Linked DNA regions of Homo sapiens. The protein of the gene in region 2 interacts with the protein of the main gene of each other region in a biochemical or structural test. Each region holds a gene or a part of one and is shown on either strand. Other genes may lie near its edges. The genes, in order: CCND2 and DMP1.

Region 1 (9,028 bases), on a different chromosome or scaffold from region 2:
AAACTGTGTCACCTTAAAAAAGAAACATTTCCACACTTAATATCTGATTCAGACAGAAAGCTTCTCTCCTACTTTTGAAACAAATAATTCCACTTCAAATCCACATTTTCAGACACCCCTAGCTTTCTGCATCTGATTCCTACAACAGCCCCTTTACCTCAAAGAGGTAAAAGTCAGTTCACAGTATTTCTCTCCCAAACATCCCCACTGAAGCTCCTTGTAAATTTCAGCATAAACTCAGAACTGTCACCGTGGGTTTAGAAAATAATGACACATTTCAGCTATAACCCCCCAGATTGAAAGATTAAAAGGACTTTGCCCAAATTTAGGGGAAATGAAGGTGCGTGGGCTCACTCTGCAGCTGCAGTTTTCAGCCCTTGCAGTTTAGAAGATTCTGCATGAGCACGGATGCCACGAGGGTATCCAGCGAGTGGGAAGGGAGTCGCCCTACATGTTTTCACATCGATTTGTAAAACTGTTTTGAAAGGGTATTTCTAGATCCATTTGTTCCAAATGCAGCAAAATTCATCCGATATCGCTCACAATGCATGCACGGGTTATCTTACATGTAATAGCCATCGTATTAACCAACCCAGCTGATACTGAGATGGTGAATGGGGCGGGGGAGCAGGGAGGAATATGTCGCGCATGAAAAACTCCGGGTGTAAAAGTCAATGCAGAACTCACTCCCCGAGGAACCGAAAAAGACATTCACGACTCTCAAGTGGAGAGAGGATAGAAAGTCAAGTGGCGGGGGTCGCGACCAGTGATCGGGATTTCAGTCTGATCTCAGTACCCAGCGGAACAGGACCATAACCTAAAGAAATGAGCTTTTTCCGGAGCAAAGAGCGGCCCCGATTTCAAAGTAGAAAAAATAAACTGCTTGGGGGTGGAAGATGGCGAGGGGCGGGGGGCGGGGAGGGAGGCGGGTCGCGGCGCTGGCTCCGGGGTCCGCGGCACGGCCTCCTCTGCCGCGCTGCCCAGGGCCCGGACCCTGCCCGGCGCTGCGCCCACCGCGAGGGTGCCAGACCCGCCGCGCCGCCGCCGCGCTCTCCCAGCCGCGGCCCCCTCCCCCGCCGCTTCCTCTTGCTCTCCCAGCCCCTTCCCCCACGTGTGGATGACGTCAAAATTCCGCGAAAAAGCCGCGTGGTGGCTCCCCGAGCGGAGGCGCGATTCCGCCGCCCAGCGGCCCCCTCCCGGGGGCGCCTGGAGGGGGAGAAGGGCGGAGGCGGCCGGTTCCTTCTCCTCCCGGGAGGCAGGACCCCCCGACGCCGACCGCCGGACGCCCCCCGCCCCAAAGCTTATTGGAAAATTCACTTTTGTAAAGCAAATGTATTTCCAGAGCTATTTTCGGCCGCGTGAGGCGTGTCCTAAGCTGAATCAGACAGGAAGAGGGGGAAGTTCGGGTCTTTTAATTTTTTTTTTTTCCGAAGGGAGGGGAGTGAGATGCTAGGTGGGTGACAGACGGCAGGCGCTCGCCTTCTTAACTCACGCCTGTCGCATCTGCCGCCTCAGTAATCCAGCCCCGTCCAAGCCGAAATTCGCCGAAGGGAGTGCGGATGCACAGGCCTGGCGGACTCTGCCCCCCTCCAGAACGCAGCGGCCCAGCGCCCCGGCGGGCGCGGCTGCGACCAGAGGGTCCCGGAAGCGAGTGAACACCTGCAATCGCACTGCCCGTCCCCACCCACCCTGCTCCCCCGTGCTCTCCGCTTCCCGACGTTTTCCTCTTCTCCTTGTCCGCATTTTTCTACTTTGCCTGCACTCCCTCCTTCCTCTTGATGTGCCTCCTATGTGTCCCCTCGGATTTATGTGTCCCCTCGCATTTTGCCAGTCGGGTTTTCGGTTTTGATTGACCGTCCATCCCTCCACGGAGAAACACAAACACAGCTCCACTCTTTGGGGGAGCCGAGGGGAAGGCAGTGGCTCCCATTTCTGAGCCTGAACTCAGTCACTACCCGCTCCCCACCTGGCCTAGGCGCCCCTGCGCGGAGAAGGCGGGACTCGAACTCGCGCTGCTCCCGGGCCTTGAGCCGACCGCGGAATCACCTGGCTGGGAGGCATCCTCCAGGTAAGCTTGGGAGTATGTGTGCTTAGTGCTGCAGGCTCCTGCAGAAAAGTGCCTATAAACACCCAACACCCTGCTGCACCCTCCACCTCCAGGCTTTGTACACTTTCCAACCGAAACTCCAAAACGCTAGCGTAGAGGGTGGGGAGCCGGCCGGAAAAAGAATAAAAGTCCAATAAAACTGGCGTTCGCTAAAGTTTATCACCAGTCCTACATGGGATATATATATATGTATTTTTTTTTCCGTGAAGGGTGAAAAGGAGATAAGGAAGAACCAACAATCTACCCCCTCCCGCCGCCCCCCACCCCCGCGCCACGGTGATCAGTTTGGACTTCAAAGCCAGAGCACAGGCTCTTGCGCTTTTTCTTGAAACCGAAGTCTACACTGAAAGAAAGTGTGCACTTTTGCCTAGAAGGCAACATGCGTTTTCCCGCGTGCTAGGTGGAGTGCATTTTAACAAGACATTAGGGTTTTAACACATGGCTGGAGTGGCGACCAAAAGGGAAAACTCAGTTTCCAGTCCAAGCCTCCTAGAGACATTCCTGCCAACCTCCGCACCCTCTCACGCCCCACCCCACGTGTGAGAGTCTGCAAAACCACCGGGGATTGGATTCGATGGCGAGCTTCACGCTCGGGAACAGTCAGTAATCGGAAGGGGAAGTGGACAGGGGAACTTCAAGAGGCGAGCCTGCCACGCGGGAAGCGCCCGAACTTGCGGGTCTCCATGAATGCAGAGGGCGCCGGGAAGGGGGGGCATCCGGCCGCGACCCTCTCTGCCCCTCCCATTCGCTGCCCCCCTCCCCGCTGGAATTTCTCTGTAAAGCAAGACGGAGTAGGGGGAGGGGGAGAGGGAAGGGGCGAGAGGGCCCTCGGCTCACTCCCGAGACGTGAGGACTCGCCACCCAGGCATTCTCCTCGGGGTGGGCTGGGCCCCGGGACGACCACCCGCTTCTTCCTCGCCCCCGCTGCCCCCACTTCGGGAGACCCAGAGCTCTGGATGCCTTTCCCCGGAGAAGGGGGGGTGTGCGGAGTCGGGGTGGAAGAGACCTTGCTCGCAGAGCTATATCAAGTGATGTCCAGAGGCTGGGAGCCCCGGCGGCCTCTGTCCCTTGCCTGTCGGGTTAGATTTATACTTTAAAAATACCTCCCGCCCTCCCTCCTTCTCTCGCCTCTCCCCGCTGCAACTTTCTTTGATCCGCTCAAAGGTGGCTTAGGTGAAATTGGAGTAATTCCCTTATGGGGGTCTTAAAATGTAAGTGAATGTCCTTATCCGGGGTGACTCAAAAGCTTAAGTCGGGAAGCCCAACGTGACTAAAACCAATAGGTGATTGTTCGGGGCCGACTGTGTGCGGGTGTACACGGTATTCGGCCCGGGTGTCATCCGCGGCGCTGGACTGTTTCATTTTGAGTTTGCAACTTGGGTTTTTCAGCGAGCTTTTTTTCTTCCTGAAAGCTAATGGCTTCCACAGCAATTAGACATTTTCCTCGCCCGCCCCTTCCCTCCCCTTTCTTTACATATAGGAGATGGGATACTCATTCCCGCTGCTATTGATAAGGTCGGAGGCGGCCGGGCCTCTCCCCAGCTTTCGCCCGCCCCAGCGCCCGCTCTCCCTCCGCCCTCCCTTGGCTTCCTTTTGATGTAGTGGGGAACGCGTCCTACTAAAAAAAAAAAAAAAAAAAAAAAAAAAAAGTAATCTGCCCGGTAACAATCAGCGCGCAGTAGCAGGAGCCCCAGAGCTATTGGCTATGCAAATAGAGGGAGGGGAGACGGCGCCCCAAACTCTTCCTCACCCTTTTAAAGCGATATCCCCTCCTTTCCCCCCCACCACCCCTTCCGCCCCACCCTCGTTTAAAGAGGCTGGCTCCGGGGCCTGAGTTAATCGCTTGCACCTCTAGTTTATTCGCTCCCCTCCTCCGCCTTGCAGGGAACCTAGTGTACGGCTCACCCAGCCCGCGCCCCACCCCGCCTTGCTGGCTCTCCGCGCCCCTGCCCGGGCCCCCTCTCTCGGTGAGGGAGGCACTCAGTCGGCCTCGGTGTGCCCAGAGAGCTCGAGCCACGCCATGCCCGCTGCACGTGCCAGCTTGGCCAGCACATCAGGGCGCTGGTCTCTCCCCTTCCTCCTGGAGTGAAATACACCAAAGGGCGCGGTGGGGGTGGGGGGTGACGGGAGGAAGGAGGTGAAGAAACGCCACCAGATCGTATCTCCTGTAAAGACAGCCTTGACTCAAGCATGCGTTAGAGCACGTGTCAGGGCCGACCGTGCTGGCGGCGACTTCACCGCAGTCGGCTCCCAGGGAGAAAGCCTGGCGAGTGAGGCGCGAAACCGGAGGGGTCGGCGAGGATGCGGGCGAAGGACCGAGCGTGGAGGCCTCATGCCTCCGGGGAAAGGAAGGGGTGGTGGTGTTTGCGCAGGGGGAGCGAGGGGGAGCCGGACCTAATCCCTCACTCGCCCCCTCCCCCTCCCGGGCCATTTCCTAGAAAGCTGCATCGGTGTGGCCACGCTCAGCGCAGACACCTCGGGCGGCTTGTCAGCAGATGCAGGGGCGAGGAAGCGGGTTTTTCCTGCGTGGCCGCTGGCCGCGGGGGAACCGCTGGGAGCCCTGCCCCCGGCCTGCGGCGGCCCTAGACGCTGCACCGCGTCGCCCCACGGCGCCCGAAGAGCCCCCAGAAACACGATGGTTTCTGCTCGAGGATCACATTCTATCCCTCCAGAGAAGCACCCCCCTTCCTTCCTAATACCCACCTCTCCCTCCCTCTTCTTCCTCTGCACACACTCTGCAGGGGGGGGCAGAAGGGACGTTGTTCTGGTCCCTTTAATCGGGGCTTTCGAAACAGCTTCGAAGTTATCAGGAACACAGACTTCAGGGACATGACCTTTATCTCTGGGTATGCGAGGTTGCTATTTTCTAAAATCACCCCCTCCCTTATTTTTCACTTAAGGGACCTATTTCTAAATTGTCTGAGGTCACCCCATCTTCAGATAATCTACCCTACATTCCTGGATCTTAAATACAAGGGCAGGAGGATTAGGATCCGTTTTGAAGAAGCCAAAGTTGGAGGGTCGTATTTTGGCGTGCTACACCTACAGAATGAGTGAAATTAGAGGGCAGAAATAGGAGTCGGTAGTTTTTTGTGGGTTGCCCTGTCCGGGGCCCCTGGCATGCAGGGCTGGATGGAGGGAGAGGGGTGGGGGGTGGCGGGGGACCGCGTTTGAAGTTGGGTCGGGCCAGCTGCTGTTCTCCTTAATAACGAGAGGGGAAAAGGAGGGAGGGAGGGAGAGATTGAAAGGAGGAGGGGAGGACCGGGAGGGGAGGAAAGGGGAGGAGGAACCAGAGCGGGGAGCGCGGGGAGAGGGAGGAGAGCTAACTGCCCAGCCAGCTTGCGTCACCGCTTCAGAGCGGAGAAGAGCGAGCAGGGGAGAGCGAGACCAGTTTTAAGGGGAGGACCGGTGCGAGTGAGGCAGCCCCGAGGCTCTGCTCGCCCACCACCCAATCCTCGCCTCCCTTCTGCTCCACCTTCTCTCTCTGCCCTCACCTCTCCCCCGAAAACCCCCTATTTAGCCAAAGGAAGGAGGTCAGGGGAACGCTCTCCCCTCCCCTTCCAAAAAACAAAAACAGAAAAACCTTTTTCCAGGCCGGGGAAAGCAGGAGGGAGAGGGGCCGCCGGGCTGGCCATGGAGCTGCTGTGCCACGAGGTGGACCCGGTCCGCAGGGCCGTGCGGGACCGCAACCTGCTCCGAGACGACCGCGTCCTGCAGAACCTGCTCACCATCGAGGAGCGCTACCTTCCGCAGTGCTCCTACTTCAAGTGCGTGCAGAAGGACATCCAACCCTACATGCGCAGAATGGTGGCCACCTGGATGCTGGAGGTAGGTCGGGGGGTGGCGCTCGCCAGGAGCCAGGACCCCTCCGGATGCTCGGGTCCCCGGCCGGAGCCCTAAACCTGGGAGAGGGCAATCCCCGCGCCGGCCTCCCGGCTCCTGTGCGGGAGTTTACCGCGCGCCTTCTGGCGAGACGCGTGGCTTTATTTCTGTTCCTCTCCAGATAAACTGGGGAGGCAGAGGGGGGAGGAAAATCTGGGAGAAGCGAGGCTGTCCTGGGCGGGGGTAGGGGAGCATCCCGCGCGCGTGTTCCTGCATGTGGCTGCCTCTTCTTCCCACCCCCCTCGCGACCTGTCTTTTGCGAAGCCGCCGCGGCTGCTTGCGCTGCGGCCAGGAAGAGAGTCGGGGCCTGAAATCGGGACCCCGAGTAGAAAGGCAACCCCCCCCAAAAGGCCAGAGCAAATTCGTCTTGGCCTCAGGTCCCCGCCTGTGGTCGCGACTCCGCGCTGGCACTTCACCGGGGAGGTGGAGGGAGGAGGGAGAAGGAGAGAAACGGGGAATTCGGGAGCCCCGGAAGTCCCATTGAAGAAACGCGTGTTTCAGGGGAACCCAAAAGAACCGCTTCTTGCCCCTCACTCCAAGTCTTTGCCCAGCGAGCCGTGTGCCCACGTATGCACAGCTCTGGACCTGCCGTGGTTTCGCCATGTTGCTTTGCAAACTCCCTTTGGAAAGGCTGGGAAACGTCGCCCGCTTACCCTCGCACCCCATTATCCCGGCCACCCCACTTCTAATCGTGCCCTCTCCCCCACCCCCCACCTCACGAAGATTACTTACAGTTTGGTTTTCCAGCTTCCTCGGTGCGGAGATTTGGGTGGGGTAGGAAGGGGGGGAGGGGGTGTGTGTAGGGGGGATACCGGGTCACCCCTGAAGGAGAGGTGGGAGCCCCCCGTGCCTCTTTCCAGGGCTCTCTGCTCCCGTCTTTCCCCTCGCTCGTCACCGCGTTCCCTAGTTTCTGTCCTTGTGGGCCGCAGCCGGACACTCCCGCCGCGGCGCTCACCCCTTCAAGTTTCCTCCCGGGATCCAAAGCCCCAGGGGTCGGAATACAGACCTTTCTGGCACCCGAAACCTCTGTTTCGGGAAGCCTGGCTCTTCTTTGGGGTTTTCACGCCAAAAGGGCTTTTCTAGGATATTTCCTCGATTTTTAATTATTTTTTGAAACCATCCCCCCCTGCTCCGACTCCAGCTGCCGAGGCTGCGGCGCTCTTCCTCCTCTCCTCCCTCCCCCTCTCTTCCCCACCTCTCCTCACCCGCCCCCCCAAAAGCGGCCCCTGGGCCGCAGGGACCCCCCCAGACATTTTTTCCAATTGTCGGGAATGATAGAGGAGGATCTGGGGATCCGGATGAGACCAAGAAGTGGACCCCCGGAGCCTCCAGAATATTTTTATTGATTTTTTGAAAAGATGACGAAATCCAAAAAAGAGTGAGTGAGTTAGAGTGCGCGAAGGAGTAGCCAAAGGGAGCGTCGCGGAGCTGCCGCGGCTGCTGCGCACTTCTCCGACTCCCCGTTTTGGAGCTGTAGTTCACCCCCTTTTATAGGATCCCTGGGAATACCAAAGCACTGATGGGCTATTCTGATTCACTCCAGTTTCCTCATCTTTGTTCTTTATTCTTATCACGCATTCTGGTCCCCTCCCCCTCCCACAAAAAAAAATTAATTTTTTTTGTTTCGATAGATTACGCTTTTTTATTCTTTTTCTCTTTTGCTGATGCTATGCTCTCCACCCCCGCCCCCCAACCCTTTCCCACTCCCATTATAGGTCTGTGAGGAACAGAAGTGCGAAGAAGAGGTCTTCCCTCTGGCCATGAATTACCTGGACCGTTTCTTGGCTGGGGTCCCGACTCCGAAGTCCCATCTGCAACTCCTGGGTGCTGTCTGCATGTTCCTGGCCTCCAAACTCAAAGAGACCAGCCCGCTGACCGCGGAGAAGCTGTGCATTTACACCGACAACTCCATCAAGCCTCAGGAGCTGCTGGTAATGACCGGCCCCTTCCTCCCTTCCTTTCTGCGATTCCCGCTTTCCCCTGGCCAACAATATGCCTTCTATCACCACTGCCAGAGCAAATTCTTGGGATCCAGAATGACCCCACCAATAGAATTTACCCACTTATGGGCGATAGCTCATTTAATAGGAAACCACTGTTTATTTTTTGTGTGTTCCTACTATGTGCCCAGGCTCCGTGCCCAGCACTGAGGCTACATCTGTGAATAAGATCCTCATGGAGATTTGGGTTGGTGAGACTCATTTGCAATTGTGTATGCATGTGTGTAGGGGACGCATGGAATATTTTAATTAACAGTGATAATATTTTAATTAAATTCCAAATTTCCAAAAATAGTCTGAGAACGTGTTCACATGATAGGTATGTGGCTGTGGTGTCTCCTAAAAACTTGGAGTTCAAAGGTAATGCCCTCTATATCTACAAAGTCTCAAGATACCAACACATAATAGCTGTTCACTAAATATCAGTTCATTGACTTTTGAGCAAAGTCAAAATGTGGCCTTTCACTGAAGGAGTCCGAGGCCTGGGTTCCTACCTCCAGTGGGACTGTGACCTCTGTACAACCCCAGGGATCCTGTCTTATCTCTGCTTTTCTACCAGGGAACCTTTTTCCCACCTGATCTAACTCCTTTTCCCTGCAGCTTGACATATAAGACGACCATATTGCAGCTGTACCGCATGGAATAGCGGCTCCAAGGCCCACCTTCGGTGGTTTGCACACCCCTCTTTGCACTGTTCAGAAAAGCACCCCCTCCTTCCCGCCCCTCCCCCTCCTCACTGGTAGGGCCCGCACAAAGTCCACAGGGCTGAGGCTGGCTTCTTGAACTGAGCTCTTTGTGAGGAGCCTTCCTTTCTGGGGCTCTGCTGCCATCTAGTGGAAGACATGCACAAGGTTGGGGGAGGAATTGCCGAGAATGTGGAGAGGGGCCTGAATGACTTCACCTTTGAACCGCTGCCAGGTTTTAGCTGCTTCTGGTTTGGTCCGAGAGGCCTAGAAAGGTGCTTTCTTCTGGGAGATCTGCTTCCTTTAATAACGGTGCAAGACCAGTGGTTCGTACTCGCATTACCCTGTGAAGAGGA
Region 2 (9,526 bases):
ATAGGAACTCAGAAAACAATACTCCATAATGAAGGCCTCAGAAGCAGCCTCAGAAGCAAAAGCTTCTCTCTGACCTTCCCCTGCCCTCCTATCTCTGGCCCCTCATTCTCCCCTGAGACTAACCATAGAAACTAGAATCCCTCTTTCCCAAAGGCAGGTTATAGAAACCAGAACCTCTTTTCCCCAAAGCCAGCAATAAAACCTGAAAATATTACCCTAAGTCCCCCTGTCTTTCTGTGTAACAACTGGCCTTAAAGAAATTCTCTGACCCCCCTAGTTTAATTGTATGTCATAAGACCCGCATTGCAGAGAAGGTCCTGTCCCATATCAAGAAGGAAGAAATGCTGCACGGAGAGGCCAAGAAGAATCTGGACAGGCTTTGCTGGGCCACCCCACTTGGTCTACTAGTATAAGGTCAAAACCTTTTTGTCCAATCATATTTCTACATGGCTGCCCATGTTTTGTTGGACATAAGCATAAAGATGGACAGTTTCTCCTGTATCTTTAGGTCTTCGTTCTGAAGGCTCCTGTGTCACATAAAAATAATTTTGTATTCCTTTTCTCCTATTAATCTATATTTTGTCAGTTGATTTTCAGCAAACCTTCAGAGGGTGAGGGGGAAGTTTTCCCTTGGCCCCTAAAATAATGATAGGAGTTAAAAGCCAAAGATTCTCAACCCTAAATATATATTACTATCAACTGGGAAGAGTTTTAAAAATGCCAATGCACAAATCCCATCCCAGGGCAATAAATCCATTCACTTGGGTGGGCACAGGAATAGGTTTGTTTTTAAAGTTCCACAAGAGATTTTAACACTTGATCTAAGAATTAAAAATATCATAATTAACCAGGCTTGGTGGCACGTGCCTGTAGTCCCAGCTACTCAGGAGGCTGAGTGGGGAGAATTCTTTGAGCCAGGGAGGTTGAAGCTGCACTGAGCCATGATCGTGCCACTCCACACCTGTTTGGGTGACAGAGCAAGACCCTATCTCAAAAAAAAAGTATATATATATATATATATATATATATATATATATATATATATATATCACTCGATAATGCCTGAATATGCTGAATATTGTCTGAAACATTGGGCTCAAGAAGTCATCTAATCTTATTTTTAATGTATTCAATAAAATAATAGAAATCCTAAGATAAGGAGCCTGAACAGGCTTCTCATTTCTGCTTTCACACAACTCAAATGGTCAAACAACCTCTCATGTATATTATGGGCATTATCTCTCCTCAGCATAGTTATTCTTAATTTGTGCTACTTTCTTTATTCTAATTCGCATAGTGTATATCAGTCCTTATGTTTGATACTATCTTAATTTCTTTTAAAAATCCTTCAATTAATATCAACAGAGAAAAACATATGAAAATGCTTAACTATACCAAAATCAAGCTTAATTTAATAGATGTTACTTCTCTTTAGATACCACAATCAAAACTTTTTAAAAAATGTGTTAGGTTTATTTCTTCAGGAAAGCAAAATTTTCTCAAATATGATATTCTCAAAATAACCCTTTCAATGCTTTCAGTTTCACAGATCAAATGAAAGTTACCTCATCATTTTAATTTTCAAAGTGAAATTTGAATAGGGTTATAATTTCATGATTCTCTGAAAGCTAGCAAATGTTAGAGCCTTGACAGAAGGTCAATGACTATTGAATTCTCTTGTATTTTCTTTAGCTTCTCTAATCTAAATAATTAGAAAACTGGGGATGCCATTGTGCATTTATTCTAAACCAATGAACGTTGTGTTTTCTCACAAAGAAGTGCATGCCCCAAGTGCTCAAGTTTCTTAGGGATGGAAGATTCTAAAACACAAGAAAGATGCCCTAACTTGCTCAGGATTCTAGAAATACTCGTTAGCATCCTGACCTAAAGCAATAATTTCCCAGATGCAAGTCTAGTAAACTAAAATAAAAGACACTCTAGAGTTCTGAGAGAGCTGATGTTGCCACCCAAAAAATATAGTCCAACTGTAAGCATTAAAGAAAATCAGATCTTAAACCCCTTGTTAGGTTTGCATTTGGTATTTCTGATAAAAATAATTATAATTTTGTGAAGTGCATTTCCAAACAAGAGCTCCAAACTTTTATAAACATTTTGGCTACTATTCAAAAAAGAGTAGAAGCAGATAGGCAGTAGCCATATTCTGAATAATAAATGTGAACCACAGCTACAAGCCTGCAATTAAAAGTCCAGAACTTTGAGTTCTTCTTCAGTGATTGGTTAATGTTATTTCTACATTCTACATGCTGTCATTCTACAGTGAGATGACGTAACAAAAGGAAATAAACAACTTGAGTTCCATCCATTTGGAAGGCGGTGTATTAGAGAATTTCTGCCCCTGTGAATTGTTTTCATAGAGTTGAAAAGAGCCAAATGTTTAGAATGTGGAGAGGGAAACTAAAGTCAAGATTTCAGGTGTGTAGCCAAAACTTCTTTCGGCTCTTAAGTAAGGAAATTTGTTCTAGCATTTTCTCAAGGTTAAGATACATTTGTAAAATATATATCTTCTTTTATGTAAACCAAAATGAAGGAAATAGGCCAAAAGAAGAAAATAAAGGTTTGAAAAGTCATAGACTCTTTTTTCTTTTGGAAAACAATTCATCATATTAATTTGCTTTATTTGTCTTAGTATTGTTATCTTCAAGAACACAACTGAACAATACATTCATTCATTAGCAGTCAGTAAATATTTATGAACATGCAATGTGTTAGGCACTTTTCTAGCCCATATTCTCAAAACCAACAATTTAAGAAACTCTAATATTTTGGTAGCTTTCTCCATGTACAACCTGTAAATGTACATTAGCAGGAAACTTTAATAATAATAAACAATAATAATAAAATAAGTTGGTTTTATAATAATAAAATTAACCAGAATCCAACTAACTAGAACCTGCTAGAATTTGTTTTCTTATTACTCTTTGAAAATAGAATCAAACTTGGCCAGGATATGAACTCTACCAGGAATCCAGAGAAACAAACAAACCAAAAAAAAATCCAATTCTTCCTATTGTATGTGTCTTCAGGTCAATTACGATGAATCCAATATTATATGCTTTTAATCACAGGAATATACCTCTGAGGTGCCCCCAAAATTAAATATAGATTTGGAAGGCCTCTAAGCATCTGAGGCACATTGTTTTACATCACCATTTTCAGGTAGGTAAGTGGACTAATACCCTTTAGAAAATAGTTTGTTCGCATTTTTAAACAACAAAGTTAAAATAAGATAGTCAAGCCTCAGTTAAACAGAAAGTATGGTTAACCACAAGTTACTGCTCTTAAGGAAGACAAGTTGCTAAAACACATGGACTCTTCTAAACGTCACACAGATGAAGAAGTGCACTAAATACAGTAAATAAAAATACATATGGACATTTTAAAATATATGTTTTAAAATGCAATATTTTAAAATATAATTATATTCAACATTTATTGAATTCTAACTGTATTCAAGGCATCATGCTAACATGAATACAAAAAACATAATTATCACACCCTCAGTTATTTCAGTAGTTTAATCATCTTTTAGTTACTTATGCAGTTCATAATAAATGTTACTAGATGCTCTCTAGATGAATAACATTTTAATTTAAAAAAAATTCTTTTTAAAGTCCTGCCATTCAATAAGTTTAGCTTTTTTTTCACAATCTTGTAGGTTGCAAACATTCCCTTATTCATGAAACACACTGTAAAAGTTTTATACGTTTTGCTAATTAAAACTAAATTTCAAAATGACCTTCCATCTGCCTCCTGTTCTATAAACTATCCCTTTTAGAAGTGTCATGCAGAGATCTAATTAAAGCATTACCAAGAAAAACACCTGGCTGTATTGTCTTAACATGTCATTTTCATATCATTATTTACTGTGGCATAAACAACAGGCACAAAAATAGGAACTGTTTTTACCCAAAGCGCAGCTCTCCCATCTCTCTCTACATGGTATAATGCCTCAAACATGTATACATATTTAATATTTTCCAAACAACCAGCAAAAGTCATTTTAAAAAATTAAATGATGAAAATGACTTACCCTCCGTAGTTCACAAAGAATTTTTTCAAAAAGTCTCAAAAATCAGGTTGATGTTCTCAAAGAGGAAATCTATGCCCAATGAAGCCACTCTTGTGTTGATATTCTGGACACTTCTCTGATGGTGCAGGAATTTAAACTCTGCTGCAGCTCTTCATAGCCAATCAACCTCAGGCTGGGGGTGACTGACATCACAAGGTGTCACCGGGACCCCGGTACACCCACACTTCCTCCAGCTGGCAGAGGCACATTTTCCCTAAAAAGCTCTTGTGGTTCCCAAATGACTAGACTAGTTTCCATTAAATTGAAGATCTTCCCAAAACTTTATTTTGATTTCTAAATATATGTCATTCACATTCAGGCAGTCTTATGAACAATGACAATGTCTTCTACCCACCGACAGATCCCAGCAGACCCAAGGATGGGAAAGGCGGAGGCAGGGGTGGGTAGAAAGTTTCCTGTTAATGTACATTTCCAGGTTGTACATGGAGAAAGCTACTAAAATACTAGAGTTCCTTAAATTGTTGGTTTTGAGAATATGGGCTTTTATTTCTTCCTTTTTCCTCTTTTAACAACCTCTACTACTCACCTCCTTTTCCTCTCATCTCCCCACCCCCATATACACACAAAGTTCCCAAACTCCTACTAATCTAATAAAGCGTCCACTAAAGTACCCCCCTTAAGTAGCTATTGTGTTATTCAAGAAATTTAGATCTAACACTTAACACTTAATCATTCCCTGTTTGCCACATTTTAATGATTCTTTGAAATCAGAATTGGATTAAGGGGAATACTAGCTGGGTAGCATCCAAGGAAACTAATCTTGAAGGGACTCTGTGCCACCACTGAAAATGTAATGAAATGGATAAAATGATATTTACCAAAACATTTTCGAGGAAGCGTACTAAAAGTTGTAGGGAGCTGGAAATGGGTTTGGCAATTTCCCAGGAGCGTGTTCAAGTGACGGCAGGATGGCCACTGAACAAGAATTTAGAGAATATCAGCTGCTGGACCTTAATTTCCTTAAGAGTAGGGATGTTTGCTTGTCTACTGATCTATAATCAGTGCCTGGATACCTAGAACAGTTCTTAATAATCACTCAGTACTCTTTGAATGACTGAGTGGATTGGCTTGAAAATTAGCCAAACTATTAACTTGATTACAGTATCTGCATAACTCACTGTAACTTTTAAAAAAATGCTTTAATTGTTAAAAAAAAAATTGAGCTGATGCTCCTAACATGGATCTAGAAAATTAGAGTGCCCAATTTATTCAGGCAACTAATGTCAGATATATGGATTATCAACATATTTAGTGTGAACTATAATATGCGGGGGAGGGTGGTGCAGACAATGAGGAAAGAGATGTCTATTTTCATTTAGGGTTGATTAGAAAGCCAAAGTCCATATGGGGAAGCTATAAATTCCCTGTGATTTGCTCTGGTTCTGAATTACACTCTCTGATGGTTTCATGGGTCTTAACTGAGATCTATGCTAGAAGAACCTTATAATCTTATGACAGAATTGGATTCTGGGCAGATTTGGGCAGATTGCATTACAAGACATTATTTTAGACTCTCTTCAAATCCCTACATAAAAACAGAGGAGCAATTAGATAACAAAATTGAAAACTGTGGATAACATTTACAATAAAACTAGGCATTTTTGTTATCTATTGCTATATCAAAAACCACTTCAATACTTTGCATTTTAAAACAACTACCATTTTCTTATCTCTCACAGCTAGCATTGTAGTCATCTGAAGACTCAGTTGGGGCAGAACATTTCAGATGCCACTTTCATAGTTGTTACCTGAGAGCTCAGCTGGAGCTGTAATTCTGAGCACTTTAGTTCTTTACATGGCCTCTCCTTGGCTTGGCCTTCTCACAACCTGAAGGCTGGGGGCCAAGAGTTCCTAGAATATCATTTTTCCATATTCTGTTGGTCAATCAATCACAAGGAGATCTCAGATTCATAAGGAGAAATACTCTCTACCTTTTGGTGTCAGATCAGGATGCACATGTATAGGGAGCAGAGGAAACGTTGAGGTAGTTTTTGATTAGTTACCACCCCTTATGACAAGTTATATCCACTAACTCCAAGGTGACTAAGGACAAAGTCCACAACTGCCACAAGACCTAGAGAGTCTATGCAGGAGTGAGCGGAGGAAAGCAGCAGGAAATCTGATGAACATGAGAACAGCAGAACCCAAAGCAGTCAAGAATTATTGCTGATGGGTGCCAATGGTTCATAGCACAGCTGAAGGATCTAGACCAGTCTAGCCCCTAAGGATTCTAAGCCACTACAGCTGCTTTCTAAGACAGACTCACATACAGGAGAAACTTCTGGGAGTGGAATAAAAATTGCACAGGATATAGACAATAGAGAAGACACAGATAAATATGGGAGAGGGGAATGGATCCAAGAAATCTTAGAAAGCTGCTATTTTTTTTTAACATAACACGAAAGCAACAGAAGAGGGAGCCGTGTGAAGTTTGAAAGTTACCCTGAACCACATTTCTTTCTAAAAGTACAGGAAAACCACTTTCATATAAAACAAACAGCAAAAAACTATGAAGGTTAAATCCCATAGGAGCAGAATAACAACCTGATAGACAAAGTATGCTTAAAAGACATAATTAAATAATAAATTAAAACCCTAAGCTTCTATTTTTAAAATAGTAAAGAAGTATCAAGAAAATGACACAATAGGTGAAAAAAATACATGGAAACTAGAATAATTCAGAAAATAAATATCAGGACTCAGGAAAATATTAGCATGAAAGAAAAAATTATTTTAGAAATGAAAACTAATCTAGAGGGAACACAAAAGAGAATAAATATAATAGGTAATTATTCAATGGAAGTAGAAGGCAAAAAAGAGGGAAATATTTTAAAGTTAAAAAAATAAATAAATAAAAAGTATTTGGGAAAAAGTGAATTATATTAAAGATTGGCAAAGAACATCCAAATTGTAGATTATAGGAGGCCTAAAGAAGATAACAAAAGTGAGAGAACAGCAGAAGTACTAAAAAACAAACGAATAACAAACATATCATCGAAGGAAGTTTCCCTGAATTTAAAAAAAGAAGATTAAAAACTCTCATTTAAAGAGCATATCATGTACCTGAGAATATTGGCCCAAAATGACCAACACCAAAACATATTCTAATAAAATTACTGAACTTTGAAGGTAAAGTCCTTTGGGCTTCTAGGCAAAAGCAACAAGTGATTCATAAGGGAAGGGATATTAGATTATCATTAAGACTTTGACAGTAATGCTTCATGCCAGGAAAAATAAGGTAATATACCTAATGCATTCAAGATAAGAAAATGTGAAGTAAGGATTTTATAAGTCAGCAAACTGACTTTTAGGTATGAGAGGCTAAAGCAAACTGCTATCAACAGGCAAGAATTCAAGGAATATTATTTTCTCAAACCATTGCTGGGGAATCTACTAGATAAAGAGTTTCAGTCAACCAAAATAACTAGAGAGGCATTGTCGTAAGAACAGGTGATAAACATAAAACATATAGTTACTTGTAAAAATGTAATTAAGTGAGGCTAAACGGGAGACAGCACGGTATATAATAACTAAATACTTAGCATTGATATAGTGCAGCTTTTAAAAAGGTGGGGAGAACGGAGAGCATATGTGCAAAAATAATTTCAACTGCTCTCAATAATTATACTAGTGATGGCAATATTATTGTTATTCTGAGAATGTTGTATGTATAATGTGGAATAAAGTATATTAGTAATTTTGAATTATTCTCTTTCTTTAACCAATGCATCCATGAGAATCAGGATTCTCAGTGTGAAAGAAAGGAGATACAAATTTGATACAAAAGAGCAAAAGCCCTTTGGGAGGCCGAGGCCAGCAGATACCTTGAGCCAGGAGTTCCAAACCAGCTTGGGCAACATGGTGAAACCTCATCTCTACAAACAGTACAAAAAAATTAGCTGGGCGTGGTGGCTCCCACCTGTAGTCCCAGCTACTCAGGAGGCTGAGACAGGAGGATTGCTTGAGCCCAGGAAGTCAAGGCTGCAGTGAGCCATGATCACACCACTGCACTCCAGCCTGGGTGACAGAGTGAGACCCTGTCTCAAAAAAAAAGAGTAATGAACTCCATAATCCTATAATCCTGAATTTAAATGGAAAAGATTAGAATTTACTCAGGGATTATTATAAAGACACACTCACGCACACACACACATATCCTACATGTATATCTTAGCTCTGTCACTATAGAGACCTAAAAACACAGTCATAGCTAGGACCCCTAGAACCCGGATTATGATCTAGCATCTGGGGCCTGTTGGGAAATTGGTTGATACCAGGTCTATGACCCAAAATATGCAAGATGAGTTTGGAACATATTGTCGTCCCAGATTCCAGGAAAGCTATCAAAGATTACTAAGATTCTGTCAAAGGACTCAGGAGCCAACTCAAATAGGCCTCTACTGGCCAAAGATGGAGCAATGTAGTCTTTAAAATAGATAATTTTAAATCTCTGAGTTCATAATGATATTACAAAAATGAAATAGAATACTAATTGGTCACCTTGGGATGATAACAGGAAGCCACTTCATGACCTTGAAAACTTATAAGTAAGTGGAAAGAATGAGGTATTTGTGCAGACCTCTATGAACTAAACCAAATTAGACATGAGGGGAAGCTTATCTTTGTAAAAGAATTGTGTGATGATTAATTTTAGGTGTCAACTTGACTGGATTAAAGAATACCTAGAGAACTGGTAAAGCATTATTTCTGGGCATGTCTGTGAGGGTGTTTCTAGAGGAGCTTGTCATGTGAGTCTGTGGACTTGGTGAGAAGCATCTGCCCCTAGTATGGACAGGCAATATCCAGTCTGCTGGAGACCCCGATAGAACAAAAAAGGAAGCAGAAAAATGATTTCCTCTCTCTCTCCTGGAGCTGAGACATTCTTCTTCTCCTGCCCTTGGACATCACAACTCCAGCTTCTATGGCCTTTAGGCTCCAGGATTTATACCAGGCTACTCCTCCTGACACCCAGGTTCTCAGACCTTGGGCCTCAGACTGAGAGTTACACCATCAGCTTCCCATGTTCTGAGGCTTTCAGACTTGGACTGAGCCACACTACCCTCATCACGGGGTCTCCAGCTTGCAGGCTGCATGCTGTGGGACTTCTCAGCCTCCATAATCACATGAGCCAATTTCTCTAATAAGTCCCTTATCAATTAATATGATATATATATCATATTTATACATATATATTTACATATCCTATTATATATATTTATTTATCTTATTTATATAGGATATATACACAGATGTATATACACACATATATCCTATATAAATAGAATATATAAATAAATACACATAGGATATATAAATACATATAAATAGGGTATCTGTATATAAATATATCCTATATATATAGGATATCTGTGTGTGTGTATATATCCTATAATATACACATGGAATATATATGGA

Evidence for each region.
Region 1: the proteins of DMP1 (region 2) and CCND2 form a complex in vitro, tested with the Homo sapiens proteins (one study listed by BioGRID).

Annotation. Positions count from the first base shown.
Region 1 is NC_000012.12:4,268,301-4,277,328, forward strand, and holds the start of CCND2 (G1/S-specific cyclin-D2), read left to right. Parts: upstream 1-5,461; 5' UTR 5,462-5,740; coding exon 5,741-5,935; intron 5,936-6,995; exon of another isoform or gene 6,996-7,177; intron 7,178-7,704; coding exon 7,705-7,920; intron 7,921-9,028. UniProt on the Homo sapiens protein: Regulatory component of the cyclin D2-CDK4 (DC) complex that phosphorylates and inhibits members of the retinoblastoma (RB) protein family including RB1 and regulates the cell-cycle during G(1)/S transition.
Region 2 is NC_000004.12:87,644,910-87,654,435, reverse strand, and holds the start of DMP1 (dentin matrix acidic phosphoprotein 1 isoform 1 precursor), read right to left. Parts: upstream 4,157-9,526; 5' UTR 4,052-4,156; intron 75-4,051; exon of another isoform or gene 1-74. UniProt on the Homo sapiens protein: May have a dual function during osteoblast differentiation. In the nucleus of undifferentiated osteoblasts, unphosphorylated form acts as a transcriptional component for activation of osteoblast-specific genes like osteocalcin.